2 separate regions of the Homo sapiens genome follow, and region 2 is linked to region 1. The links come from fine-mapping of genetic effects on gene expression. A gene starts in region 1. The other region holds a variant in brackets. All regions are shown on one strand. Distances are from middle to middle. Region 1 holds the start of LINC00702 (long intergenic non-protein coding RNA 702). Region 2 overlaps LINC00702 (long intergenic non-protein coding RNA 702).

Evidence for each region. PIP is the estimated chance that this variant, and not a neighbour inherited with it, causes the effect.
Region 2: its variant is the best candidate, but not a certain one, in a credible set for the expression of LINC00702 in fibroblasts (GTEx, PIP 0.72).

What each region holds. Positions count from the first base shown.
Region 1 is chr10:4,236,203-4,251,731 of GRCh38, reverse strand. LINC00702 (long intergenic non-protein coding RNA 702) reads left to right here and starts at 7,820. Exons shown (of 3, transcript NR_108040.1): 1 at 7,820-7,909; 2 at 8,045-8,228. LOC105376369 (a long non-coding RNA gene) reads right to left here and starts at 4,686. Exons shown (of 2, transcript XR_930588.2): 1 at 4,372-4,686.
Region 2 is chr10:4,192,848-4,208,376 of GRCh38, reverse strand. LINC00702 (long intergenic non-protein coding RNA 702) reads left to right here. Exons shown (of 3, transcript NR_108040.1): 3 at 1,211-1,501. Among named protein-coding and RNA genes, the nearest start is that of LINC00702, 43 kb to the left of the region's middle. The variant G/C (reference allele first, on the strand shown) is at 9,102.

The DNA.
Region 1 (15,529 bases):
TACTCTAACAAATTGACCTCAAATGCAATGGTTCATTGCAATACCACATAGAAGTTTCCTTCTCTGTCCAGTGGTAGTCTAGGGTGGATAGGCAGGTCCATCCACAAGGTATCAAATCCAGAACCAGGTGACCTGAGCAGCTCACCATCCTCAAAACACATTATCCTGAGATGCTCCAATCTTTGCAACTTACATCTAGCAGGAAGGAAAGAGGTCTTTTAGATTCAAGTTGAGCATATCATGGGTGCTCATAGTCTCCTGATGAGAACTGGATCCCATGGTTATGTGGGAGCTGGGAATTACAGTCTTCCTGGACACCTCTGACCAGGAAGAATGAGGAACTGATGTGTGCAGAGAAATGAGTGTCTCCTCCACCAAGCTCACCTCTTTGATACTCTCAAGCCTATTTGCTAGCTCCCATCAATCCATTATAAGCCCTTCCTTTTGCATCTCTACCATAGGTAGAAGTACGGAAAACATTCTAAGAAAATGTTACTTCCAAAACTGTCGAAAAATAATTATCTGGGATTTGTGTATCTGCAATAGAATAGAAAACTACTCCACTATCCCTGTACCCCCACCATAGACCAAAGAAAAACAATGGTTTAACTTTTTGAGCTAAAATAAAAGAATCATGATGAAAGAGCTATTTACAAATATGACATTCTTTTATGTACTTTTAGATAGAAGACATTTATCAGCAATGGTATCTAAAAACTGCAAAAGTAATTTATTGCTGAGCAGGGACAATGCACATTAAATTAATTTTTAATTTTAGGACTTACAAAATATGACAAAGGAAGAACAACAGAAAACTTGCATAACCCAATTGAAAGTAGGTAAAAGACTTGAATAGATATCTCCCTAAATAAGGCATAAAATAAGCCAATAAACTCATGAAAATTGTTCAACATCACTAATCACTATGGAAATGCAAATTAACACCACAGTGAGATATTGCCTTATATGCATTAGGATGACTACTATTAAAAACAAGAACAGAAAATAAAACAGAAAGTAACATGAGTTGGCCAGGTGTAAAGCCGTTGGAAACCTTGCATACTGTTGGTAGGAACATAAAATAATGACGTAGCCACTATGAGAAACTATGGTGGTTCCTCAAGAGTTAAAAATGGAATTATTACATCATTCAGCAATTCCATTTATGGGCATATATACTTGAAAGAAGTGAAAACAGAATATTGAAGAGATATTTGTACACCCATATTCATAGCAACATTATTCACAATAGCCAAGAAGTGGAAGCAACCCAAATGTTCTTTGGTAAATGAATAAACACAATGTGGTGTCTACATACAATGGAATATTTCTTGGCCTCCAAGAGGGAGGACATGTTGACACATGCTACACAGATATTTTAAGACCGAGGTGTAGATACTGCAGGGAAGTAGAGCAACACAGGCCAAGGAAGACAAAAGACTGAGTGAGACCAAATGGCGATGAGTATCTACCCTGAGGATATGATATTTGAGCTCAGGTTTGAAGGATGAGTAGCAGTTAGCCAGAGAAAAAGGGACTCTGAGGGATGTGGCAGTGGGAGTAAGACTGAGATCTTATGTACGAAAGTCCCTGGCAGGATAAAAATTGGCACATTGTAGGACCCAATGTCTCTGAAACACAAAAAGCAAAGGGACAGCAGAGGGACACAGCCACATGAGACAAGAGGTAGCCCACGGAGAGGTCATGAGTAGGCTTTTGCTTTTTAAGAGGCAAGGGAGAGGTCAGGCACAGTGACTCATGCCTATAATCCCAGCACTTTGGGATTACTTGAGGTCAGTTGTTTGAGACCAGCCTGGCCAACATGGTGAAACCCTGTCTCTCCTAAAAATACAAAAATTATCCAGGCATGGTTTTGGGCACCTGTAATCCCAGCTACTCAGGAGGCTGAGGCAGGAGAGCCGCTTGAACCTGGGAGGTGGAGATTGCATTGAGCTGAGACTGTGCCACTGCATTCCAGCCTGGGTGACAGAATGAGGCTGTCTCAAGAAAAAGAAAAAAAGGAAAGGGGGAGATAAAAACAGAAGGATTTTAAAATAGTGGAGAGGGTCATGTAAAAAACATTTTTATCTTGAAAAACCCTTCTGGCTACAGCATGGAGAAGTTCCTAGAGGACTCTTGGAATGGGTGCAAAGATAACAGCTAATAGCTTTCTCAGTATCTGGGGCAACAGATGATGGCAGGTTGGGCCAAGGTATGGTAACTGAGATGGGAATGACCCAGTGGCATCACGGGGAGATTGTAGGTGTGCAGTAGGATATGGGTTTTCCAATTTCAGAAGAGCTGTAGCGCTCCTTTGTTATTTTAGTGTTTCATTGATGTTGAGCTGACAATGGGAATTGTGGGAGTGAATAGGAAGAGTCTAGAGTGAATATGAAGATGACCTGCACTTAAGTAACTCCAACACAGATTGTTCTATGTTTAGAGGTGACACTGAAAAAAAATAAAAATAAAAAAGACTGAGAAGGCTAAGTCACTGATGTCAGACAAAAATCAGTGCAGGTCGTCTACTTGAAACCGAAAACATAAGTGTTTCACAAAGGAGAGATCAGTAGTACAAATGCTCTTTCATAGTTAAGGAAGATGCATGGAAGTTGTCATTAGATTTGCTGGCCTGGGAATCATTGGTGGTCAGGAATATATCAGTGGAGTTAAGGGGGTGGCGGTCAGGCTGAGGGATTAAGACGTGAAAAGTTGGTGAGAAGACAGCGGCAAAATATAGTCTATATTCTTGAGACACTTCCCTGGGACAGGGGAAAGATGGGTCTATAAGTAGGGAGGGATTTTGTTTGCCTGTTGTTTTTTCAAATGACCTAATAGAGATAGGTTTTAAAAATATTAAACTAATATATTTTCCTATATATTCTCAATGAAACATGTTCTCTGGCGCTGTTCAATCACCACAGCTCTAGGAAAGAGGGAGAGCAGAAGCCAACAGAGGACGGGAGGAGATAAGAAATAGGGTAACACCTGGACAGAAAGGTGGAAGCACGAGAGATGGAGACAGAAGGGGGCAATGTTGGGGCACACATTCTCCGACCCTCTTTCAGAAGGGGAAGGATTTTGAGCAGCAGCTAGGAGGAAAGGCTGTCTCTCTGGGATGAGAGAGAAGACTGATGAACAGGGTGCCCACTTACCCACTTATGATGCTGCTGTCATTACCTATAATGCAGTATCTGTGAGCATGCAGCTTGGTGAGGCGGGGAGAGCCTGGGGTGATCTTTCCTGAGGCATCCTTAGGGTGTCTGCAATATGATAGCAATGCAGTTGTTTTCCTTTGCCCAAAGGATTAGGAGGGTTCTGAGTACAGAGCCAAGGAGCTTTTCTGGAGGTGCTTCAACAAACCAGCCGAAGTCTGCAGGGAGAGCTGCACTGGCTGAGGACTGAATGGGGTCAGATCCAGATGCCAGGGTGTACGTACTGACCTCAAGGCCTGATATTAGATAGATAGAGTCCAGCTAAATCACCAAGTCATGAGAATACACTGAACTCACCACTCAGAGAACTGGAATCAAGTGTCACTAGGGCGTCTAGCAACCAGAATGACAAGGAACATCTTCAGGGACACACAAGAAGCGTGAACCAGGAGAAGGAGTTATGCACGGGGCCCAGGCAATTCCCCCTTGCTCAGGAACCTGGAGGAAATCTGAGTTGATGAACAAGACCATGTTTCCTGAACACACTTTAACATTTAGAATCAGTCTTAACTTTCTGGATTGGGTATTAAGGGGAAGTTTGAATCAGCTTTAAATTAATAAATAAGCTTCTGTTCTTTGTATGTGATGTGCTCTTTGAACTTGATGTGCAGAATTTGGGAGCCTCACTAAATGGGGAAGATGTGGGCGCATTGATTAATGAGGATGGTCCAGGTAAGAGTGAGCTGATGAGTGTAAGGGAGAGAGATTTTCATCGTAGGATACGAAGCTGCTGAACGTTAAAAAGTTAAAATGTTTCATCCAAACTTTTTTCATGCCACCCCACAAAATCATCTTCTAAACAATTAGTTTGGGACTTTCTGTGTGGGCCCCCCCTTTTTTTTTAATTACAACACCATCACCTTTTGCCTTTCCCTAAATCAACACACTAAAGTCCTGCTGACATAATCTGCTTCCGGAGAAGAGGTTCTGCATTGTGTCTACAAAGTTTCCGTCAAGTGAAAGTTGGCAATGTAAGTCTGTGTGAAATTGTACCTCCATAGAAGCAGATTTTTGAATACCTTTCTTCATCAAAATGCTGGCAGCGAGAAGTAATCCTGATCCCACTGTATTTACTTGTCGATCCTGAATAAGCAATGCTGCATTTTTATTCGATCATAACTTAGACAGTTGCTCCATGCCCTCTCCCATGCCTTACCCTTGTGTGTGTTCATCCTCAAAGCAGGACCAGTGTAAGAGAAAACCCAGGGTACATGGAGCCATGTTTGCCCAGCTTCTTTCTTTCTTAGGTTTCTTTTCCTCTCATACCTTCAATGGGAAGCCAGAGCTTCTCTAACCTCAAATTTCATTATTTCTTTGCTCTCCCAATCCCAAGCCAGTAAAGCACTGACCACAAAAATTAAACTAAAAATTAAACTACGTTGGTGCAGTGATTCATCTCATCCTCTTGTGTTACTCATCATGTAGTGAGTACCCCTGAGATTAGAACAGGAAACAGACAAGGATCCCTAAATTACTTATTTGACAATGAAATCGTATTCATCACAGAAGGTCAGTAGAGAAACTTAGATGTGTAGCTCATGGCCACGTGTGCCATGTTTTACTTAACAATGATGTTGTTGAGGATGGTGATGATAAGATAAAGAAATATTCTGAAAACCTTCGTGGAAGAGCAAGTGGAATTTGATAGCAGTGTGCTGGTTTTTAAGAATGCCTCTAGAGGACTTAAAAATAGCCATTAAGCAGTTTTGCTGAAGCAATTAGAAAACCTTAGAAGAAAGTCCTCAGACATTTAATCAACGTTCCCTATAGCTGCATCCTAAAAATAAACGTGAAGAAAAACAAGAATATACTCTGCATTGCAGTAGGAAAGTTTGGAAGGCAGAGAAAGATAAAAAGTTGCAAAAGAAAATGGAAAATGAAAGCAAAGTGATGTGATAACTTTGTAAGGTAGCATCTAGGCTCAAACGAACTACATTCTCAAGGACAATCTTTCCTATGTTTCTTAATGTTTGTAGCCACTGTTGTGGAAGATTTAGCCTGGGGAAATGGAGGAGCAGCCTTTCCTCTAAAAAAACAAGTTAATATAGGGTCTTGCTCTGTTGCCTTGGCTGGATTGCAGCAGTGCAATCTCAATTCACTGCAGCCTCTGCCTCTTGGGCTCAAGTGATCCTCCCACCTCAGCCTCCTGAGTAACTGGGACCACAGGCATGCATCACCAAGCTCAGCTAATTTTTAAATTTTTGTAGAGATGAGGTTTTACTGTATTGTCCAGATTGCCTTTAAAAAAAAAAATCTTACATACATTGTCACTTATCTGCAGATATTGATGGGAGGCACCAGCCGAACTTGCATCTTCCTCTTTTTGAAGCTTCTTTGATTCCTGGGCTAGATGTGTGTGTGTTTAGCTCCATGACACAGAGTCCCGTCCTCTGCACCCACATAAGCAAAGGTGGAGGTGATGAGAACTGACATGAGCTCAGTCTGTCATTTGGGCTTCAACCTGTGCTTCTGGGGCCCAGCTCACCATTCCTCCTCCACCCTATACCCATGTTTTCTTCTCAGGTGTCCAGTCTATGGACTTCAAGATCCAGCATTAGACACAAAGGCAACTCTGCAGAGATGGTTTAACCAGCTCCCAATGTTGTGTAAGGTCAAATACCTGAAGACAAATCTGTAGAGTTGCTATATTTCTGGTTTAAACCTGACTTACACAGAATTTGGTACTAAGGGTGGTTTCAGAGGAATGGGATCTTAAGGGTACAGTTTTTGAGTTGTTTCTGTGTGTGTGTGTGTGTGTGTATGCGTGTGTGTGTGTGTTTGGAATTGTTTTTCTGATCTGATTAGATTTAAAAGCACTAAGTACCCTATTCACAGTGGTAAAAGAGGGGTAAGTAGTTCCTAGCATCAGATGGAGAGGTCAGAAAAAAAAAGAAAGAAAGAGAGATAGAGAGACAGAGAGAAAGAGAGAGGGGAAAGAAAGAAGGAAAGAAAAGGAAGAAAGAAAGAAAGAAAGAAAGAAAGAAAGAAAGAAAGAAAGAAAGAAAGAAAGAAAGACTCAAATTATCACCTTTACACATCTTTTATTAAGTGCCCATCTGAGTAACCAAGAATTTATTGAGTTTGACCATTTTAATGAAAATGATGAATATAATTGTGTTGGTTGGCTAGTTCTAACTACACTGGAGAAATTCAGGGCTTTAAGTACCAAGATCAAGTTCTATATAAGGGTCCTGAAAGCTTCTAGATTGGTCCTGAAAGAAATCCTATCTCCTGTAGCCAGAGAGCCAAGGTTTTTGAACAGGAAACCCAAAGTTTCATCCTGTGGGTGGCTGAATTATAGCCAAAATTGAATTCCAAACCTCATAGAGTCTCTTTTATTAAATTTAGGACATTTACTGGGAAGGAGTGGGATTCTGAGGTTTGGGAAGGGAATATATGAGCAAATTCTAGTTAATCTGGAAACCTAGAGCCCTTAATTCTGACAGCTTTCCTTGCCTTCTTGGCCAGTAGAAGCAGTCTGCAGCCGTGCCTGAGGAAGTTAGTCTCCCTTTTCTTGAAGAATCTCTAATGCCCACCACCGCCCATTAGTACTGCATTGAGAGCCCTACTAATCTTCATTAAGTTCTACTCCCACTCCTTTTTCTTCCTTTTAGACCTAGAGTTGACTCAAGTCTCAAACCTGTGATGGGATATGATACACATCCAAAGAGTTGCATGATCTGCCAATTAATATCAACAAACCCTGGGAAATAAGAATGACAATGTATCTTAAGAGTGTGGGATTAAGATGGAAATAATATACAATTGTATCATGGTATATGTTTTGAAGCGGATTTATTGATTCAGTGTCTTAGCTTGAGGGTCTAATAATGGCACTAATAATTTTCTCAATCGGTTGGCTGAATCATGGAACCAGAGGTGACCTATACGACTTGAGGTTAAAATGTCAGAACGTTCTTGGTATAACATCGAGAAACATACCCAAAGGCTCAGGGAAGTTAGAATGCAAGAGTGAGTTCCTGTAGCAGACCTGCTCACCCACCTGGATGTGCCTTTCCCTCAGCTGAGCCGCAGTGCAGACTTCATACTCAATTGTAAGCCATGGCATTACCAGTCAACGTGAGCCATCATGAACCCGTCATTATCTGATGTACTTTTCCAAGGATTTTATTACATGTTATTGCAACTCAGGGAGATAGGCAAGATTTATTCTATTGCTACTTTTCTGAGTTGAGAAAATTGAAGTTCACTTAACATTATGCATTTTGAATATTGATAAAAATAGTACATGTATCTGTGTAGCTATCAATTTGAATAGGTGAACAATCACGATAATAATGGATCGATAGTAAATTTATTCAGTTATGAACAGTGCATTCAACCACATCTAAGGATAAATATTAAGCAAAAACAATTCAAGTCACAAACTTAAAATACTCTAAGTAAGGTCATGCCAAACTACTTTAAGAATATATCTGTGGTAAAAATACATTCTAGGCTACATTACATAGAGTGAGATTTGTGGGAAATAACTTGCCCTTTTCTTCTATTAAAGGGCAGAGTTTTTTGGAAAAAAAAAAAGATAGTTCAATTTCCTCTCTCCAAGCTGTCTTTTTAAAATAACATAACATAACACATAGTTTGACACAACTCCACATGACTCAGAAGCCCTTCTTAAAATAAGACCAGACCACATTCATGGAGGCTGAGTCACCTCTAACCTTCCAAACTTGGTGAGGATTACTAACCAGAACATATTTTTATTCCTAAGATAGTATGAGAAAGTTCTGATCTTGACAGTTCACGTAACATTCAATCAATTATACCATTGCTCTATCTCTAAAGTTTTCTTTTTCTCCTTTTCTCAGTGTCTTACCAAGAATGAAAGGCAACCTATGTAAAAACTATGGGCTTTCTAGTATAAATAAAAACTACTCATCTCCAGAAAATAAACAATGACTGCTAAGATGATTGAAAAAAGAAAGGAGAAGAAAGTAGCTTGTAAAAGCGTGTGAAATGCATTCACGTTGGAATCTCCTACAGGCACTTCAGGTAAGAATTCTACCTTATCCTCTGTGTTTTACTCCAGAAAAGCATTTCCTTTTCCAGATCCAGGAAAAAAAAAAACTTTTTAAACAAAATTCAGCATTTTTTAATTAAAAATTGACACTAATGCGTATATCCTAGACTGCACTGCATTGCATATTATGCTGTTGTGTGTGATAAGTTTACGTTTTCACGATTCTGTCTGAAAGCTTAAAGATGTATGTTTTACAAAAATAGCTCTAGTACAATAGGACAATAAAACGTGAACTCTTGAAGATCTGAATTGGAATTATTTTCTGACAGACTATATTTTCAATTTCTTTATTTGATAAATGAAGATGGATAACATTGACCTCATGTGTAACTACAACGAATTCAAGGGTGTGGACATGTTTTTCAGGTCTTCAGACTGTAAACATTTTAAGTGTGATTGCTGTGAATGAAGGAAACCCAGAGCCATCATGACAAGCCTAAACTCAAAGGGGACTGATTTCTTCTACACTGAATGTTTCATTAGTGACAGGGCCCAGATAATAAAGAATTGTGCTCACTTCCTGTGAGTGATGGCTTTCCCTCAATTGTATGCTGAGTAACATTTACAGTATTCATTTTTAAGCACCCATCTTCCTGGGAGCCCTATTTCCCCTAAGCTTTCAATTGATCCTCCTAAGAGCAGAGATCACTTAGGCACTGAGCTATGCAGCTGCTGCCTGAGTCTCCTGGACGCCTGCCCTCACCTCCAGCCACATGAAAAACATTCAAGCTTTAACTTCAGAAATGTTCTCTAACCCACTCCCAGACACCCAACTGATTAAATCATAGATTAGAGGAAAAAATTCTTGCCTGAAATTGTCATCTTGCACGTATGCTGATGTCCAGAAGGACACATCCTGGTGGGAAGTGACTGCATGTTTTGTTCATATTACAAGTCCTGTTGACAAAAGAGAATAATACAGGTGTCCTCCTGAAACTGTCACCACAGTGACCTTCCTCAGTCAAAAAGAAATATAAATATTATTGTGTTTCTCGTGTCTGAGGCACCTCTGAAAGCATTTATCTTTTCAGAGAGTTCAGCACTTCATCTCACGGGTTAATTAAACCAACCTGTAGTGGCAAAGTTTAGTGGTAGTGAAAATAAACATAATCCTCTTTCTGTTGCCCAACCTTTCAGTTTCATTTTGTAATTTTTCAATACAGGGGCACAATAAGTGATAATCCTGGATTCCAAATGATTTCCACTTCTTTCTCTGCCACCTTCCCTGCCCCAACACCTGCCATCCCTCATTTACACAATTCAAGTAATCAAGGGGCAGTTTGGCTCCCTTTTTCTGGAGGCAAACTTTTGCAGAGTTTTAACTTACTCAGTGGGAAGAAAAGCCCCCAAAACACTGAAGCATACCAAGCAAATAAATAAATAAATGCACAAAGGCTCCCTGCGGTTGTCTGACGAGGATACTGGAGCAAGCAGCCTGAAGAACAAACGTCTGACTGTTGAAACAGCGAGACAGGAATAAACCCATGGGGCCACATCTGGGAGTGTGAGTGTGTGAATGGAACTAAGCTGGTCTCCCACACAACAGGAATTCCACCAAAAGTATGCGCTCTGTATGGGAGGACAGAAAAAAAATGTGTTTAAAATATCACTAAGGAAACCCAGATACATTATCTCTGCCAGACTACAGAAGACAGTACAGTTAGTGCTTGTCTCAAAATGACAGAAACAGAGAACATGCTTTGATGATGTCGAAGATGCAGGAAAATAGAAAAATAAAAACGGTGGAAAGATTTTTTTTTAATGCCCTAAAATGAGCAAGACGCCTCCCTTTTCATAGCACCAGGAGACATTTCCATTGCTTTTTTTTCATGCTTGTGGCTTTTTGAGGGCAAAGAGTAAGTGAAATCCAATAATTTGGTCTTTCTGCTCCAAAGTTTTGGCTGCCATAAACTTATTGTTCGAATATCAGAATGGTTGTTCCTGCTTTGACGCCTGTGAAACAATTTGTTTCAATATCATAGCACAGTTTTAAAAGTATGTTTTGACTCCAGAAATATGTTTGACCTCAGAATTTTGAAAGCGTGTTTTGACCTTTAAACTCTTACTTCAAGAAGACATATGTGTGCATGTGTGTGTTTGTAGGGTGTGTGTGTGTGTCTTGTAGAATCTCACATTTTATTCAGTAGCTTAGCTCCATTTCAATGCCAGTTAAATTTTAGCATTATAATAATACAATGAATTACTCTCTAAAAATAGGTTGAAATGTATTTCTATTTGTGAAGTTTAGGCAAATGACACCATCTGCAATATCCTTTAACAGATTAGCTATTGTAAAGGCATCATCTTTAGGAATAATACTTTTCTGCATCATAATAATTTCCTGTTATTCCTAAGGCAAGTGCTGGATGATTGTTGTTTCAGTGTGGATCAGCCTGACTTCAATCCATCTGTGCTTCCCAGGGCCGACTCCTGAATTCCTCCTCCATGCCATCATACCTTATTGGCTCTCCTGCTGTTACGTTCAGTCATAATGTTAAAAACTCAGACTATTAAAATGTAAAGATATGAATTCTTTTTGAAATTGTCAACATGGAAGAGTCTATCTACAGTCTGCTTTTAATTTAGCCGCAAAATGACTTAGCTGATGCAACAATTTCACATGCTGAGGAAGAGTTTTCGATTGCCGAATTAGTGTGATAAAGTGATGGTGAGGTTTTCTGTTGACTCTGGAAGCAACAACAAAAATGGTGGTGCTCTTCTCCATACCCATGTTCATAGATATATCGTTACAGATGACACTCAAACTTTGATTTTTTTTCTTTTTTGGCTGACTGCTTGAAACACATGTAGCCCCAGGAAACAAGTAGAGCCACCCCAGGGAACTAAAAAACAAGTGAGTAACCGAAGACTCTAAACCATGTGCAGTAGAAATCCTTGACTCTTGTTACAGAGATGCCTGGAGGTTAATCCACATGACAGGGATGAATTATCTATTGATGGGATATTTTTAAAATATCACCCAAAAGTTTGTAAGCATATACATAAAATTAATTCAAATAATTTAATGTGAAAGCTGAAGAATGAATCAGTAAATTTTAAGAAAAAAGTAAACCCAGATAATAAGACAAATTGTAGATAAGAACAATCACAAATTGTTGATTCTAACATGCAGTTTTCTACTGCTTAAAACCCTTTGAAGTCTTAACCAAATACACTGTCACCATTTTTATAAACTCATTTATTGTGAACCATTTATTAATTGATACACAAGCACACACTTTTTAGAGGTAGATATTGCAATAAATAATTCTGACACTTTAGTTAACAGTTTAATCAACTAAAAGATAAATTCCCGACAAATGTGTTAAATGACAAATTTTATTTTTCATCATAACCCACGTTTGAGTCTACAGGTGGTAGTTACAATATCTAAAGAGAAATTTATATCATATGTCACTGGATAAAACAAGAGGCATGGTCTGACTTTGGGAAAGGCTGAATATATAGCACAGACAGGCACTTTTTAATGGGCTTTTGCAGGCCTCAATAATCATTTTCCAAATACATTTGCAATAAGTTTCAAATAACACACTTCAAATTAAAGATCATGTAGATTCAAATGTTTTACTACCAATATTTATCCATTTACATACCATAAAATTGCAAAATTGAACATTCGTACAAAAGCATTTTAAAATGCCCCTGACTAAAATAATATTTTCTGCAAAAATACAAGTCATAGACTCTTAAGGACCCTGACAATTTTTTTTCTGCATTAGAACACAAGGAACACAGAAAGGTATAAGCACAACAAAAATATCATCAATAGATTCTGTTATTCTACTTAAGGCCAAACCAATTCTCAAGCTAAATTACACTGCAGATAATTCGGAATTAAACAGGCTTTTGTTTGCCCAGCTCTCCCACCTTCCACCCAAGTTCTTGATGTTTCAAGTTTTTCTATTTTTATATCTGGTATATGGGGATTTTTATATGAGTAACTATTCTTGTTATAAAATAGCAAGAATGATCAGTAACATAATCAACAGCAGTTAATTTGGCATTTATGATGTAAAATTGCCTGCAAGAAATACTTGTAACCAATAAAGTATGCAACCTAATTTACACCAGCAATAACAGCATTTTTCTATTAACTTGTAGGGCGATGAGTTTCTACCGTGGGGATTCATTTCCTAGCCAGCTTGCACGGGGATGAAAGGAAAATGCATATCTCCTATTTTACAGCAGGCAAAGAATATAGACAACTAATGGGAGGGTTAATCCTGAAGAGGGTTAAAAAAATACAATGTACATTTATTTATAACAACAATATAAAATTGATTTTTGCAGAACAGGTAAAAATACAGATATGACGCATGATTTTCTACATCAAACTCTGTGACACCTCCCTTACATACCATGCATCATTATCCTAACAACATCCTACTCTTTCTCTCAATCCTGACAAACAAATCACAGTATATGTGTCATCTTAATTCTCAACTAATTTCCATCATGTTTTGACTGTCAACTTTAAAGTTAGGCAAAAGATCCAAGACTAATATCCAAACTGTTTAGCAACCATGATGGTACAGGCAATGAATAATCCACAAAGATTGGCTGAAAGCAACAGAAAGCACACAGGTGTGAGCCGACAGAACATTAGCCTTCATATCACCGAAGCCCGTCTTAAACCAGCACTAGCTCTCTCTGGCCGCCTTCCTGGGGAATGGAGGGAGGGTATCGTGGAAAGGCAGAGTATTGTGGTCAGGATGGCCTGTGCAGGACCTCATGCAATTGCTGTCTCCCTGTTTCTTCCTGGGCAAATCCCTGAGACTCACTGGGTAGACATCTTCATCTGAAAGAGAGGGTTCATAGAAAATAATCCACACTTCTGGATGTGAAAAAACCATGAATGAAGGATTGGTCATTACATCATCCATAGAATGTTTACCTCTACTAGGTAGCAAAATCGAAAAGTCAGAACAAACAAAACAAAACAAAAGCACCCAATGCCTGGTTGGGAGCGCTAAGCTGTCTCCTCACTGAAGTTCTCTTGTACTCCCTGCACTAACTTAGCCACGCACTTCCTCATAGCCAGATGTCCATTGACAGGCTGGGCACACAGGCAGCCCAGTCCACAGCCCCCGGGCACAGTGGGCACACCAGTATGTGACCATGCACACACGGGCAGTGCTGCTGCTAGGGACAAGGAAGGCAAGACCCTGAAGCAAAGCTTGGTGTAAAGACTGTTTCTGAGGTCACCCTTGGCTGGTGAGACAACTGTTCCCCAATGTCTTCACGGAAAGGAAAAAAGGGACCCTACATTCTTAGAATGCTAGAATAACCCTGGTATATGCTTGGTGCTGGCCATGAGAATGGAAATATATCTCTGTTTGATTGTAAATTCTGTCCCAAGACCCATAAGAGGGCATGTCTTGCACACCTGCATGGCACGGTGCTGAGTAAGGCTCTGAGCCAAATGACTGTGGGAGGCTCTGCCAGTCTGCACTGTTACGGGCTCTCAGGGTTTGCACTAGGCTGAGGTTTCCAGGTAACATTAATACTGGGAACACTGCTGTGGACCCTAATAACAAAGGGAATGCGAAATGGGTCTAGGAGCAACAAAAGCAGTAACAGTAAAAACTGAGACACAACCATTTCTTTTCTGAATTTAAAAAAATATAGTTACAATCTTTAAGGAATCTCCACTCTGTTTTCCATAGTGGTTATACTAGAAACATTCCCACCAGCAGTGTAGAAGTGTTCCCTTTTAACTGGATCTACACCAATATCTATTATTTTTTGATTTTTTCATTAAGGCCATTCTTGCAGGAGTGAGGCGGTATCTCATGGTGGTTTTGATTTGCATTTCTCTGATCATTACTGATGTAGAGCATTTTCCCATATGTTTGTTGGCCATTTGTATATTGTATATCTTCTTTTGAGAATTGTCTATTCATGTCCTTAGCCCACTTTTTGATGGGATTGTTTGTTTTCTTGCTGACTTGTTTGTTCTTTTCTTGCTGACTTGTTTGAGTTCCTTGTAGATTCTGGATATTAGTCTTTGTTAGATTTATAGATTGTGATGATTTTCTCCCGCTCTGAGGGTGGTCCATTTACTCTGCTGACTATTGCTTTTGCTGTGCAAAAGCTCTTTAGTTTAATTAAGTCCCACCTATTTATCTTTGTTTTTGTTGCATTTGCTTTTGGGTTCTTGGTAATGAAGTCTGCCAGCAATCCCACTACTGTGTATCTACCCAGAGGAAAAGAAGTTATTATATGAAAAGGACATCTGCACATGCATGTTTATAGCAGCACAATTCACAATTGCAAAAATATGGAACCAGCCCAAATGCCATCAATCAATGAGTGGATGAAGAAACTGTGGTAGACATATACGACGGAATACTACTCAGCCATGAAAAAGAAATGAATTAATGGCATTCACAGCAACCTGGATGGGATTGGAGACTATTATTCTAAGTGAAGTAACTCAGTAATGGAAAACCAAACATCACATGTTCTCACTCATAAGTGGGAGCTAACCTATGAGGATACAAAGGCATAAGAATGATACAATGGACTTTGGGGACTTGGGTGAAAAGGTGGGAAGAGGGTAATGGCAAAAGGACTACAAATCAGGTTCAGTGTATACTGCTTGGGTGAAGGGAGGAACCCGAATCTCACAAATCACCACTAAAGAACTTACCCATGTAACCAAATAGCCCATGTTCTCCAAAACCTATGGAAATAATTTTTTTTTTAGAAAAAGGTCCAATCAGTTTGTTAAAATAACCATCTTTCAATCTCTAATTTCAAAAAACAACACATCTTTATTTTCGGAACCATGTCAGATTAAAGTCCTGAGAGAGAGAATCTTTCTCTTAAGGAAGGGTCAATGAAGAGTTAGCTTTCTGTCTCAGTCTTAACTGTAATTCTAAAGTTTGCTTTTGCTCACCATTTTATCCACATAAATTAAATATCGGTTAACACATTTAATTATAGTTTTTTTTTTCAAAATTGAGTACGTTTACTGATTTTGCCTTATTAAGTAACATATACTTGGTGTTAAAAACAAAAAACCTACACACTCACAACACACAAACGTACAGAAATTTAAATTCAAATGAACAGAAATTTAAATTCAAATGTAAATTCTACTCACCCCCAAAAACATTCTACCTCTTGCAATAAGAACCACATAAAACGTTATTATTATTCAGAGTGCTTTTATGCCTGATCAGTAGTGATGCCTGGTAGAATTTTTGACGTGACATACTGTCAGGAAAAGGGAAAACAGCTGCTCTGG
Region 2 (15,529 bases), 43 kb after region 1:
CAGCCCCAAAGGTTCGGGGCAGCTGATGCTATGGGGCTGTTGTCAAGTCATTTTCACTCAGTCCAAGGGCATGGTTAGACATACCAATCTGTCACCAAATTAAGTGCTTTGGGATTTTTTTAAAGGTTGAGTTGAGAGGTTAGATTTTCTCCCTTTGATCTTTCATATTTCAAATAAAGATGAATTGGCAACTTTCATTTCTGATGCATATTTAGGTTTGCCTAGGTTTGGTTTATGCTGGTGTGAGTCTATGGATATGTGGTTTATGCTGGTGTAGGTTTAGATAATGATGTGGTCCCGTGTGATGTGAAGTCAGAGAAGCGAAGGACAGGACAAGTGGGCACAATTCTTTTCACTGAAACCTTTTATGTCAAGGTGCGATTACACGTAAGATGCATCCTCCTTTATGTTGGTAGAGTTTATTCACTTTGAGTTTGAATGCCACACACTTTATGTCTCGTTGAGAGGTCTCACCATTAGTATCTCTTTAGTGTGCCATCCAGGCCCACAGCCAAACGGCCATTCCCCTTTCTTGCCCAGCAATATTCAGCCTCTCTTTCCCTCCTTTAGAATAACTGGTCTTTGCTAGTCATAGAAGGATGCCATCATTGTCTTTCTGTGACAGGGCAGACGTTATTAAACACAGTGCTGTCTCTTATATATTAGAGACAGGGGCACTGCAGCTCATGAAATTTATGGACGCAGTGGCAAGTGATCTATAATATGCATGATGAGAGGGATATAGAATGGGCTCTTCCCTTTTCTTATGGGCAAGCCGCTGAATGTTTATTCATTGAAGCAAAGAAATACAACCGCATTTCAGCCATGCTCTTTCAGAAGCTTCCTGTAGGTTTCCTCCCAATTTATATCTTCTTTATATCTGACATTTGCTTTAGAAAGTTATAAAATTTAATGTTTCAAATATACAATGTTTATAGTTCATACCCCTCTTGTGTTTATCTGTGGTAGGTTTCACAGTGATTTGGATTCAAAAATTTTAAAGGATGCAGGGGTTAATTATCTTGTTGAATCATTTAGTACTCCATAACCAGGCACTGTAGCATGGGAGCATATTCTAATAGTACCTTAGTTTAATAATAAATGAACTTTGTTAATCTAATCCTGGGTAATTCAGGAAACAGAATGTCTTCCTCTTAATGTCTTTCCCTGATAATGATGGAGATTTATATTGATAAAATTGCTTCCACAGAAGACGAAGTGCTCCTGATGGCTGCTTTCAATCACTGGAAGAACCATGAAAGTGCGAGAGATTCCTCCCGGTGAATGAAGCCAGCTCACCACCGTCAAGGGCAAGGGATCAGCGTGTGTTCACATGGAGGCCTCTCACCGAGGGAACCCAAGGGGGACAGCACAGGAATTGCAGAGCCAGCACCCATGGAATGGGCAGGGATTTGGGTTTCATCCAACCAGCCAGTTGATCAATAATCACTGAATGTCTGTCACCCATTGCATCCTCTCCTGAGTAGTGAGGCTAGGCCAGTGCCAGTCACCTGGAAATCCTTACTGTTCTGCAGTTGACATTTTGAGAGGCAAGTCAAACAATATATATAAACAACTAGAATGTCTAGTGTGTTTCAGGAGGTAAATGCCGTGCCGGGATGAGCAGAAGGAGGATGGAGCCGTTGCTGGGCAGATAGACTGATTTTAGATAAAGCCGTCTGGGTGCAGGAAAGAAGACCTTAAAGAGGGAATGACATTTGAGCAAAGTCTTCAACAAACTGAACCCAGGAAGAAAACATTCCGAAAGTCAGAGAAAAGAGGAAGTACGAAGGGCCAGAGCCAGGGAGGACATTGGCGGAGATGCAGCCGCAGAAGCGTCAGGGGCCCTGCAGCCGCGATGCAAACAGAGAAGTGGGCGCATGGAGCATACGGGGCAGAGAACCAGCACCATCTGAATACACTGCTTAGGCTGTTGGGGCCATGGCTTCTCTCGATACCAAATAGGAGGCTGTGGACATCATCTTGGCAGGAAACGACAGTGGCTAGGACCACAGTAGTCACCGTAGAGATGGAGAGAAGTGGCCAGATCATAGATACATTTTGAAGATTAAGCGGACAGAATTTGCTATGGATTAGATGTGGGTGAAACAGAGAGAGAGAGAGAGGATAGCTCCAACATGTGCTGTCTGAGCAGCTAAAGGGGTGGAGCAGGATGAATAAAGTAAAGAAAAGATTGAAATGGAGACGAAGGGCCACTGTAAGTGAGACATCCAGACGCAGCCCAATACTCCCAGGGGAGCTTGCTTACGGCAGATTCCAGTCACAAGAAGCACCAAAAATGTCTCCTCTTTCATTTATACATGACGCAAAATCAAGAGGATAAGCTGCTCCAATTTGAAAGCCACACGTTCCTTTAAGGGCAGGGCTGGGCGAATGGGTTCAACCCTGACTGCTCTCCACCGTCCATGCAGGACCACAGCCTAGGGTGAAGGGGGCCCTTCTCTGGGTGTTGCTGGGAGGGAGAAATATTCCTGAGATGAGCTTAAGACACAGCACTTCTCCCCTGTGGTGTGAGAGCCACTGTGCCTACAAGGACACTCACAGAAGCTGTCATTTGGGATTCGCTGCCAAGAGCAGAGCACGGCTGTTGATGCGTCGAAACTGAAAAGCCTTCTTCAGCTGGGTGGGCAAGACGGCTGTCTATGGAGACCCTCCTGAGTACAGATGCACCTGCTTTTAGCCTCACATAGACGGGGGCTCTTTAGGACTGTGGGCTGACCCTGAGAAGAAGCCCCATGGAAGCCTGCTTATCTCCAAATCCCCCGTCCTTTCTCCTGAAAGACAGTCTCAGTGAGTGAAGTTCTAGCATTATAGATTTGTTCCTTTGTAAGTCTGACAGGATTTATGGTTTGCAAACATTTTTTATGAGAATGAAAATTACTTTGGGAAAAGTCATTCATTTACCACCCTTACTAGTCCTTCCATAGGAACTGATTTCCTATACGAGCTTGAGACATATTTGGAATTGGGCAAATTCCTGCAGAGGGTAAGAGGACCAGGAACAATGAAAAAGTGTGGCTGTCCATGCAGGTAAAAGGGCCCCACAGGCTCATGTGAATTACTTTATTTAACAGCATCCTCTGCTGTTGCTGAGGAGAGAGGAGTGGCCCTGGCTTCTCAGTCATATTTTCCAGCCCTGACTTGTTTACCTGTCTCCAAGAATTGACCCAAAGTAACACCTTTAAAATGGAATTTATTCTCTCCTCTATTTTAAATAACACCTGGATGAATGAGAGTCTTTACAACAGATACGACTAGAAGGAGAGACGCTAGGAAACACAGAGGGAAACATGGGTCATTTGCATCTGCAGCTGTGTGTGTGGCAGCTCAACACTGGAAGCTAAGTTTTCCTATTCAGGAAGATGAAGCTCTCGGTGTCTGTGCCCCATCCCATGCCCCTGGCTACCTATTCACATCCGGGGCCAATTAGTGCTGTTGAATTTATTCCAAAATCCTCAGGCAAAATAGAACTCTTTTTGATTACCTTGGAGTTGACTTCTCCCTAGTTCCTCTCCACAATGATTTCTTGCTTTTCACCGAAACTCTTTGAGAAGTTCTATTTTTTTGTCATTGGTCAGAGCAGCATTTTATTTTGCATTTCAATTCAATTTTTAGTGATGGATTTTGGATTTTTATGTTCACCTGCCAACTACTTTAACCCAGAAAATAGCAGCATTGAGCAGTTCCTGACGTAGCGGAGGTCTACCAGTTGTCATACAGTATCAGCTGCCATTACCCCTTCTGTTGTGTGGTCCTGAGACTGGTGTGCACCTTCACAGCTCAAGGGTCAGTGGTTGCTGCAGGCAATTCTGCTGTTGGATAAATGCTTAGCCCTTTGAGCTTTACATATTTTTAACAGAAGATCAAAGAAGCTGAAAGAGTGATGGAAATTAAACTGGTCTTATCTATCTATATTTTAATGACTGACTTGGCATCCTAGTGTGGTAGCAAGAACTTTGGACTGAAAAAAATATCACTTCACAGCTGTTCGGCTGTGTGACCTGAAGCTTTTTTTTTTTTTTTTGAGACGGAGTTTTGCTGTTATTGCCCGGGCTGGAGTGCAATGGCACAATCTTGACTCGCCACAAACTCCACTTCCCGGGTTTAAGCACTTCTGCCTCAGCCTCCCGAGCAGCTGTGATTACAGGTGTGCACCACCATGCCCAGCTAATTTTGTATTTTTAACAGAGTCAGGGTTTCTCCATGTTGGTGAGGCTGGTCTCGAACTCCTGACCTCAGGCGATCCACCCACCTCGGCCTCCCAAAGTGCTGGGATTACAGGCGTGAGCCACCGTGCCTGACCAACCTGAAGCAATTTAAGTGGACTTTCAAATTTTCAATTTTCCCATTGGGAAAGTGTAAGTTTTGGGAAAAGTCAGTAGTTTTTACATTCTTTTGTTCTGATGACGCTTTTTTGTAAAATCCACATGTGGAAGCCATTAGATCATTTTGTGGGGCACAGTTTGAAGACCACAGGACTTCATGATTTCTGAGATCTACCCATTCTTCCAATCCCAGCTTCCAGCATCCTCTGGGTACATCAGAACCTCCCAGTAAAAGGATGGTGTTGGCAGCTGTCCTGGAAATGCTCAGCCTCGCTGGGAATGGGTCCCCTCTTACTTGCTGGGTGACCGTGAGCATGTTGATCCCACCTCAGAGCCCCCGCTTCCTCCTCCTCTATAAATAGGACCATGGATAGTAGCTTGGAGAATTCAATAAAATATAGTGTGCTGAACACTCAGCACGTGCACTAGGAAGAACCAAAAATGAGCAGAACCCTCACTGATATTTAATGTCCCCTAATTTGTCAAGGGACATTATATTGCATAAGATTTGCTTTAAAGAAAGTAAATTCCTTTCAGGCAAGTTGTTTGAGTCACCAATAGGTTTAAATCAAAGGAAGTTTTTGTCCTCACGATTTTGCATTTTTTAGTGCCTTTCCACAACAAATGTATAAAAGGAGCATTATTTTTAAGTGTAACTATTTTGGAAACTTCTTACTTAAAAGCAATTTTCTACTACAAGTCAAAGGATTAAAGCAAAAAAAAAAGGTGAATCTGCAGCAGCATATATTGTATATGTTTTCTAGAAATACTTTTTTAAAGAAGGCAGAGAACCCTAAGCTAAAAGCAGAATTTAAATTTCTAGCATTCATTCAGCAGCTGTCTCTATAAGGAGACAGGGTTGAATTGTGTCCAAGTCAAGCATCAGATTTCCAGGGAAAGCAGAGGAGAAATTAGAAAGTGTGCAGGAAGCAGCAGAAATGGCTGTTAAAAGGTGATAGCCTTCTAAAATTGACAAGACTTCTTGGGTCAGATAACAGATCCAAGGGCTAGAGGTCTGAATTCAGGCATGGTCGGGGGAGGAGGAGGGGGAAGTGTACAGAAAAAGTGGGTCAGTGCCAAGGGCATCTCAGCCTGTTTGGAGGAATTCAAAATCATTTAGGTAAAGGGTTAGAGGTCAGAAAAAATGATCAGCACAGCAGTGAGGGGTCATTGGGACGTCCTTGGATGGAAGTCCTTCAACCCAGCAGTGTTGCAAGGCCTCAGGTTCCCGGTACCTGTCAGTTTTTGCAGCTCGAGGAGGACAGCCTGGGATCTCAAGCTTATGTTTCATAAAGTTGCCATCCTAAGCTTTGGCATGACAAAGTCTCTCTCCTTGACAACGTTCCTTAGGGCCTTCTCAGCCCTTTTCTCAATGAGGATTCCACGTTGGCTCCCATCCTCGCTGGGCCTGCATACCTCCTTTTCAGCAAGAATCCTGCTGAGGCAGTTTCACAAGAACTTCCCACCCTTAATGCCTGATCATCACAGGCATCCTATCAAATTTCATACCCCTTTCTTTGATGCCTTATCACCTTGGCCTGCCTTCAGCAAGGATTTGTTGTTATTTTGGTTGTCATTTGTTTGTTTGTTTGTTTTATTGAAACAAGGCAGATTCTAGGCTTTATGATTAAACTCTAAACTAATCCACAGGCTGAGGGCCAGATATTCTCTCACCACAAAGCATGAGCACATATAAGTTCAGTCCCATGCCACAAACATCTGTGGCCCTTTCAAGCCAGATGTGAAATCACATCCTGACCAAAAATACAATTTTTTTAATGTGACGTTTTCGAGTGCTTTTAAGATTTTATCTGTACCTACCATGACATTCATCATTTAATCAGTCTCACTCTGCCAACTCAAGGCGACTGTATATCATGCTTTTTAAAACCATCGAACATGCTACAATGCCCAAAACACATCCAGATTGTTATTGCATTGGGTCATTGCATAATCTTTCTGGCTTCGCGCCGCTGCCTCCTAAACTTCCCCAGCCACCAGCACAATCTCTCCAGGAGCACTATACTGTCCCTGAAAGCTCCTCACCCCATCCCTGGAGGGCAGTTCCTGCTCCCCAAATAGCTCGAGCCTCCTTGCTTGTCCCCTTTAATCCCCCAGTGCTTGGGGTACCCATATATTGACAACGGGTGTTAAGAAACAATGTCATCTAAAACCCCTTCCAGATGCAATTACATTTTAACTCAATGGGAAATGGCTTGTCATACACTTCACGAGGAATATGAATGTTGGCATTTTAGGAAACTGCAGCCAGTGAATATGAAAGAGATGCTGCCCAAAGGGCTGGTCATCCAGGGTGCCACCTGCCAACCTTGTGGTACGAGTGTCCTGGGCTGGAGGAAACCTGCCTCTCCAGGGACATGGGAAAAGAACTCATCATGGGAAAAAGAACCATCTTCTGCCTCAAAGACAGCATGGTTATGTAGGAAGATTGAGAAGAGTAAATAGCTCCAAAAGAAAAAACAAAGTAAAACAGAACACCAAGTAGGAGAATATCAACTGTAAGTATACGCCAAAGTGAATTAAAATCCACCATGGAGAAGAACACGCATGCTGAGAGGGGCTCTCTCCTTGGCTCTGCCGTCCTGAAGGCAGTGTGGGGAGAGAAGGAGCTGGCTTTTGATAGCAATACGGACACTCTGGGAGCTGTGCTGAATGTTTCATACTTTCCTTAATGTAATTTCCACAGCATCACCACAATCATTACTGTCTCTGCTGTACATGGGGAAAAGCTTGAGTTAACAGAAGTTAAACAATTCACCAGTGATCACACTTACATGAAAAAGCCAGGTATTCTATCTGTCTGATAACTTGAGCCTGGCCATTACATTCAGTTCTGCTGTCTTTAAAATAAAAACCCTGGATTAAGTCATCTCTGGTGGTGTTTTTTTTTGTTGTTGTTGTTGTTGTTTTTTGAGACGGAGTCTCATTCTGTCGCCCAGGCTGGAGTGCAGTGGCGCTATCTTGGCTCACTACAAGCTCCGCCTCCAGGGTTCACACCACTCTCCTGCCTCAGCTTCCAAGTAGCTGGGACTACAGGTGCCCGCCACCAAGGCTGGCTAATTTTTTTTTTTTGTATTTTCAGTAGAGAAGGGGTTTCACCGTGTTAGCCAGGATGGTCTCGATCTCCTGACCTCGTGATCCGCCCGCCTCGGCCTCCCAGAGTGCTGGGATTACAGGCGTGAGCCACCACGCCCGGCCTGCTTTGTCTACTTTTATTTTGAAATCTTGGGGATCATATATGGTAGATGTGTTAAAACTACAAAGAAATTGTCATATGGCCAGGTCTGACTATTTTTTTGTTGTACTTAACTTACTCATTTATATATTAAAGAAAAATGGGTCTAAAATTAATTCAATTTCAATAAGATTATTCTACATAGCAAATATAACTGGTGTTTTATTTATTACATTACGTATTATCTATTTTTATTATTATACTTAACAATATATTATTCATAAATAACATGATAAATATTAAATAGGATAAATAATATTAAATATATTTACAGATAAAAATACATTATTCTGTATTATTATTTATAATGATATATTACTTATATCACTGGCATTTTATCTTAATTAAATCAACTACCATGTTTCATTAAATATTTAAGACAAACATGTACATAATATAAGGATTTTTTTTAGTGATTAGTTATATTTGGGAAATAGAAAATAAGGTTTGGAGAGATCGTACTAAAGAAAGTACACAAAATGCATGAATGTCACAGACTGATACTAGAGAACCAGAAATTTAACTCGAAATTTTGAATGAAGTCTAGTAAAAAATACAATTAATTAAGTGATTCAGAGATTCCATGAGGGAAAAGAAAATTACTCATTTAGGAGGGAGGGACACATCTATTTTAGTTCACTGGCACATTTTCCCCATGGGTCTCCCTAAAAAGGACAGTGTGTGACATGGTAAACACTGTTCATGAGTGTTCCAACCAGAAACACAGTGGCCATTTCCATCGTGCCCCTCAAGGCATGGGGCGCAATGCCACAGTGCGATTCCACAGGAGAAGTGTCCTGGAGCGACAGGCTGGAGAGAAGGCATGGGGCACAATGCCACAGTGCGATTCCACAGGAGAAGTGTCCTGGAGGGCACAATGCCACTGTGCGATTCCATAGGAGAAGTGTCCTGGAGGGCACAATGCCACAGTGCGATTCCACAGGAGAAGTGTCCTGGAGGGCACAATGCCACAGTGCGATTCCATAGGAGAAGTGTCCTGGAGGGCACAATGCCACAGTGTGATTCCACAGGAGAAGTGTCCTGGAGGGCACAATGCCACAGTGTGATTCCATAGGAGAAGTGTCCTGGAGCGACAGGCTGGAGAGAAGACCCAGGCGGCTGGCAAGCTAAAGGGCACCATCCAGAAATGCAGCTCTCTTCCAGCCTAACTTAGAGAAGCCTGCATTTCAGGATGGATGACATACTCCTCAGGCAATAGTCCAATTATGTTTTTCAATGAATCCTTCTTGTAATTAGCCTTTTAATAAATAATGAGCATGAGTTAGTAGCAGGTTAGACTCCCCAAAAATATCTGGAATACAGCAGCTATTCCATGCTCTTGGCTTAAGGTAGAAGCGTGTGGTTTAACAAGATTTACAACCTCTTATGAAACCTGAGGTACCTGACAAGAATGTGTAGTTGTATACATAATTAAATGCCCAGCTCACATAAAAAGGACAAAGGGAAGTAGAGCCCAAATGTTCCTGAAGAAGTAACAT[G/C]TTCGGTCTTCTTGCTTACTGACTCATGCACCTGCAAGAATGCAACATTTTATTCCAGAGTCAAGCATAGCAGTGTTAATTTTCTTAAGTGGGTATGACCCAGAATCATCCTCAGCCTTATAAAGATAAACAAAAAGCAACTTTAAAGACCATAGGAATGTACGGTAAACATTTAATCTTGAACCAGGGAGTCCAAGGGAGTCCGAGGTTGCAGTGAGCCGAGAGCACGCCAACACACTCCAGCCTGGTGACAGAGCAGATTCCGCCTAAAAAAAAAATAATAAATAAATAAATAAATAAAAGTAACAGAGTGCATGAAGCTCCTATGTAAAGCTACTAATTCAAATCATTCAGTTAAATGTTGAGAAACATACGCCAGACTTGATAAAGATTGTAGAATAATTCATCTGTAACTACATTGTGATAATTATTGAGATTTCAGAGTCAATAGCCTATTTACCTCTCTCCGAGTCTATGTCAGTACAAGGATCTGGCCTAAGTAAACAAGTGTCTTAAACTTTCTTCTTTCTGGTAGATGCAAGGGAGAGACCCAGGGAAAAATTCTCTTCACTTCAAAGGATTATCAAGTTGTCAGTACACATGTTAATACTAGAAACATTAAGAAAAGGAAGAGAGATCAAGTTCTTGTCTTCAACCCTTTGGAAAAATTATTATCAGATCTATGAGTGACCATTCCTTGGACTTTGATTATTGATTGCCATGTTGTTAAATAGCAGGTCCTTAAATAAATGGTAGAGAATTCTTCCTAGGGTAATATGATCTGTAATGTTCCCGTGTAAATTCCTGGAAAACATGACTCAGTTGGCCACCTGTCCACATGCACAGCTTCATCACCACGCTTCCTCACATTCTGTGCTTTGATAAGAACAAATTATTTTTCATTCCTGGGCCTCCACACGTGCTTCATGCATCCGTGACTCTGCAGGAGCTGTTTCCTCTTGTCTGGAATGCCATCCTTCACCTTGTTCATCCTGAAAACCCACCATGTACGCTTCAAGTCACATCCAGACACCTCCTCTTCCAGAAATGTCCTTTCTGCCCTCCCTCAACCCTATGAAGAAGTATTAATTCTGTCTTCTAAGCAAAAAAAATTTAAAAGGACTCCTTAATATTTCTAGCAGCAAAATCAATAGGTTTCTAGTAGCAAGGAAGTCTCCCATTCAGTACGAGCGCCTCTCATTGTAATTACACCATGCTGCATTGTTTCAGGCATAGCCACATCTAAATCAAATCATATTTTCTTTATGCACTATAAACCAATCTTAAATTAGAGTCAACACCTTATCACTTTACATCAGGATAATATAAAAGTTCTCAAGGTTTAAGTGTGTGCACTTTATATTCAAGGAACTAATGCAAATCCAGGAAGGAAGAAAATGCTGATCTTGTCTTTTGGTAATCTGTTATACTTCTTTATGCCACAATTTTTTTGCACATTTTTTTTTTGTCAGGCAGCCTGGTAACACTCTACAATTGATAGTGTAATTTAGTCTCTTCATGATTCAATTGTATTCATCCCAAAGGCTCATTTCCTTGAGTGTCTTCCAGCTGGAATTCAGAATTTTAAATGAAAGTTTAGCAAGGAAATTCAAGGGGTACCGAAGAAATAAGTCATTTCTTTTATTACAGGAGGGCTTCTAGGCAGATTAATGAAATGCAGTAACATGGATATTAGTTGTTAATAAGGGTATGGCACTTGGTCTATTGCATGTCATCTATCACCCATTGGATCTGATTGATGGGACACACCGTGTCTAATATGATGTGCATTAAGCACTTTCCCTAAAGGATTAAAACACTGACACCTTGTGAATGAGAAGCAGTTTAATATTTCAACAAGGATGTTTCCACTGTGATTCATTACAGGTAAAGCATAATTTTCATCCTAGTGAAATCAAAACTATGTACCATTCTGTATTCAATCTTCTATCCCACATATACTGCCTTCACAGTACTTCTTAGACAAGCACATCCTGTTCTTTTATTAGAACAAATAATTATCTGGGCCCAGATACACCCAGTGGGAAACAAATATTTTGAAGACTTGCCTGAGAGCTTTGCTCCACGGTAGAAATGATTCCACCAGGGTAATATTTTCTTTGGAAACTGCTGTAAACCGACCTATCAGGAAAGAAGAGGTCTGGAAAATTGTGTGATGATCAGTATGCACTTAGCTCAACAAAAAGAGAGTAGGCTGAAAATAGAAAGTAGGTCTTGTCTGGCTTAAGTAAATTCTGAGATGACAGGTCTATTACAACAATGCAGCCCAACAAATAGTCCTAATATAGAAGCTCTAACAGCAAGGGAAACATCTGAGAAGCACAGGAGGATACTTCTGTTTTTTGTTAACTGTTTTCAAAGTGCTAGGGGAGGAAGGTAATCCTTTTCTGATTCATATGAGTTCAGGAGAGAATGAGACAAAGTTGGGAAAGTATGAGAGGAAAACTATGATCATGCTTAAAAATAGAAAATAGGCAACAAAGTGCTAGGCACCCAGGCTGACTTAAATACCGTAAAATGTTAAGGCTGTAAGTGAAATTAAAAATACTTTTTTACCATCATTTTTTTCCAATTTTACTGTCAAAGAAATTATAGCCAGAAAAGTGAAGTTGCTTATTTAATGCCACACAGCTAGCTAGAACCTAAAATGGAATGATAACATCCACGGTCTTGCAGTAGTACCATGCTTTTTACACAGCAGCAAGAATCCATCTGTAAATATTAATACATGTGAAAATAATCAGAATAGAGATGAGAAACAGCAAAATACATACTTAACCACCACCTTTTAAGAGTAAGAAGTGTAATAACGGGTCCAAAGAAAAAGGTGGCAATCGAGACCAATGTAAGTCATTATGCACAGCTGCTTTGGGAAATTTCCAGAAGGAAAAAGTTTTCAGGAAACAACCATATGGCTTTGTTTTGTATTCATTTACTCCATCCACATTGACAGAATTTGTTCTGCTTAAAACATGGGGGATACAGGGCAATGTCACTGTGATGTCCCTGTCATCACGGAAGGTTTGGGCCACTTCAAGATTGGCATAAGGTCTAGGCAGACCTCAGAGACTAAATACTCCATCCCTCCTCCATCAAGCATGTGAAAATGCACCCAAATACTACATTAGGGGAAAACTCTTATGCAGGTTAACTTGTGAAATTTTCTGGCAAGCATTATTTCATTCAACTAATAACTTGGCTGTAATTTCCAAGAAATCCAAGGAGTGCACTCTGAAATTTTTTCTTTTTTCTTTTTCTTTTCTTTTCTTTCTTTTTTTTTTTTTTTTTTTTTTTGCTGAGATCGAGTCTCACTCTGTTGCCCAGGCTGGAGTGCAGTGGCACGATCTCAGCTCACTGCAACCTCTGCCTCCCGGGTTCCAGCGATTCTCCTGCCTTAGCCTCCCGAGTAGCTGGGATTACAGGAGCACACCACCATGCCTGGCTAATTTTTTTGTTTTTGGTAAAGACGGGGTTTCAATGTGTTGGCCAGTCCTGGCTCCTTGAGCTCCTGGCCTCAAGCGATCTGCCGGCCTCGGTTTCCCAAAGTGCTGGGATTACAGACGCTTGCCGCCATGCCCAGCTAATTTTTCTTTTCTTGTTTTTTTTTTTGTTTTTTTTTTTTTTTTGTATTTTTAGTAGAGATGGGGTTTCGCCATATTGGCCAGGCTGTTCTCGAACTCCTTACCTCAGGTGATCCGCCCACCTCCACCTTCCAAAGTGCTGGGATTACAGGCGTGAACCGCCGCGCCCAGCCTCACTCTGCTTTCAACTCCACAATTAAGCCACCGCGATTGGATGCTGGGACAGGAGGATGCAATGAAATCACTGCACAAGCAGCAGCTCCCTGAGTGACTCAGGATGACATCAGCACAGGACCCATGGAAACCATCAGCTTCTAAACTGGACATCTGCACCCTGGCCAAATATAAGTGCTCAGGCCCCTCAGGTGGTGTTTGCATTCGCTTTGCACCTCTGTGCAGCCTGCTCGGGTCAGCGCTGGGCTCCAGCAATGCCAGCGTGGAAGCCCGGCTTGGTGCTGTTGGTACAAATGTGGCCTTTATGAGTAACTAAGAATATTCTTCAAAATGTGTTTGATTTTCCATAAAAAAATGTCCTTCGAGAACAGTTGTACCAGCGGCCACCCCCATATCCTTCACTCTGTGTCTTCACTCTCAGCCCAGGACACCGAGTTGGCGTCTGCATAGTGCAGATGTCAGCCTGGGTTGCTGGGTTCCTTTATTCATTCAACATGGGAAACATAAGGAGCAGCAGTGGGTGTTTCTCATTGGCTGGCTGTCCCATGTGATCAACGGGATCCACTCCAAGCACAGGTGGGGCTGTGGTCCTCCCCACCTGTGCTGTTGGAGAGACGCTCAGACCCATAGCTGGCCAAGGGCCTCTCGGCATGGCAATGCTGTCATGTTGGTTGTGACTAGTGTTACTATTCCCTTTATGTTTCTGTGGTGAGAGATTAACATAGGAAATATTAGAAGGGATTATTAAATTAGTTGGCTCTCACAATGGAACACAAAATGCAGCCCTGTGGGAACTGGGCACAAACGGAATTGGTGAATGAGGATGATGTGTAAGATGGGGCCACTGAGACCACAGGGCATGGTGACAGAGGCTCGGGAAGCTGGCCACCATAGCACGGGAGAGATCGGTGAAGATGGGGCAAGTTTTGCCTCATGTTGTTTCCTTTTGGGAACGTTTGTGTTTCTATTACCCATGATCTCTCATCCTTTGGTGCTAGTCTCTTTCAAATGTGCTTGGCATTCAGTATCTTTGCTTTTTATAGCGGTCATCAGGAAGGCTCCTGTGAAGAACTGTCTGAGTAATCCTGAGTAATAAGGAAAAAGCCAGATACACTAAAATATGAGGAAATATCAGCCAATGCAAAGAAAAAACCTCCTAAGACCTAGAGGTGCGAGTGAACTTGATAGCCTCTCAAAATATTAAGAAGTTAATGAATAAAAGCACATGAAAAAATGAAGTCAGAGAAGAAGGTGGGAGCCGATCCCATAGGGCATCTTGGGCTATAGGAAGGAATTTGGACCAAGTGTGGTAGCTCACGACTGTAATCCTAGCACTTTGGGAGGCCAAGGAGGGAGGACGGCTTGAGGCCAAGAGTTCAAGACCAGCCTGGGCAACATATGGGAGGAGAAAAGGGAAGCTTGCTTGAGGCCAAGAGTTCAAGACCAGCCTGGGCAACATGGCCAACCTCATTTCTATCAAAGAAAAAATTAAACGAAGAATTATCCAAGTGTGGTGATGCACACCTGTAGTCCCAGCTACTTGGGATGTGGATGTGGGAGGATCACTTGAGCCCAAGAGTTAGAGTCTGCAGTGAGCTATGATGGCACCACTGCACTCCAGCCTGGGTGAGAGAGTGAGACACTGTCACTCTCAGATTTTCTGACATAAGAGATGAGAATATGGGGAATGAGAAAGAGAAAACTTATGATCCACCCTTAGGTTTGGGGCTGAGCAACTGGATGGATGATTGCAATTTTTACTTACATATGAAAAAGAATGTTGGGGGAGCAGACTCATGAGGGGTGCAGCGAAGTGGCGGTGGGGCAGAATCACAAATTCTGTTCAAGACCTTTTTATAAACAAAAGGGCCAGCAAATAACTAAGGGAGGTGTTGAGTAGGCAGAAACCATAATGCTTGTTTGGAAATTCAGATTGGTTCCAATGCAACTGGTATAATAAGAAATAATTTGAGCATAACAGAAATTCTCAAATGTCATGTTTGCTTATGTCTATTAGGAATATTAGATCAATGCGGAAAGCTACCCAGATGTACCAGGCCATGAAGGAACACACAAACGCACCCACGCATTCAACTTAAATTTCTCCCTCATGTCCTGAGCTCACCTTTCTACATCTGGGGTTAGGACATACCTTCCTGTATCAAATACGCCCTGCCACCACTTCATAACCCTCAGGACACCCACTTCCAAACAGAAACACGAGGGCTTTTTCAAAATAAACTGTCAGACTTATTGTAGTTATGTCTTCTCAGCCACTTAGCCCATGCAAAACTGTGCTGAAGTCCTCAATCATTTTCTAACTTTTTCACTTGTCACTGATGAATTTTTGAGCATTGGGTCTCGCCCCATTTTCCCTGTAAGTCCTGCGATTTTGACTGCCTGATTTTACTCAAAGTGATGATCTTATTTCAGAACTCACTGTAAAAGTTCCTGGTGCTGTAGTGAAAAGGCAGGGTGAGAGATGGGAATTTGGGAGTCTTGGATACCAGGGTTAGAGGACGTCATCTGTGGAGCACCTTCACGTATGATCACAGAGTGTGATTTCTCAGGAGCTGGCTTCCTCCTCTAGGAGCACTGGGTCCTGGTCCCCATCTCCACATCTCACCTTCTAGCACAGGGCCTGGCTGCTGG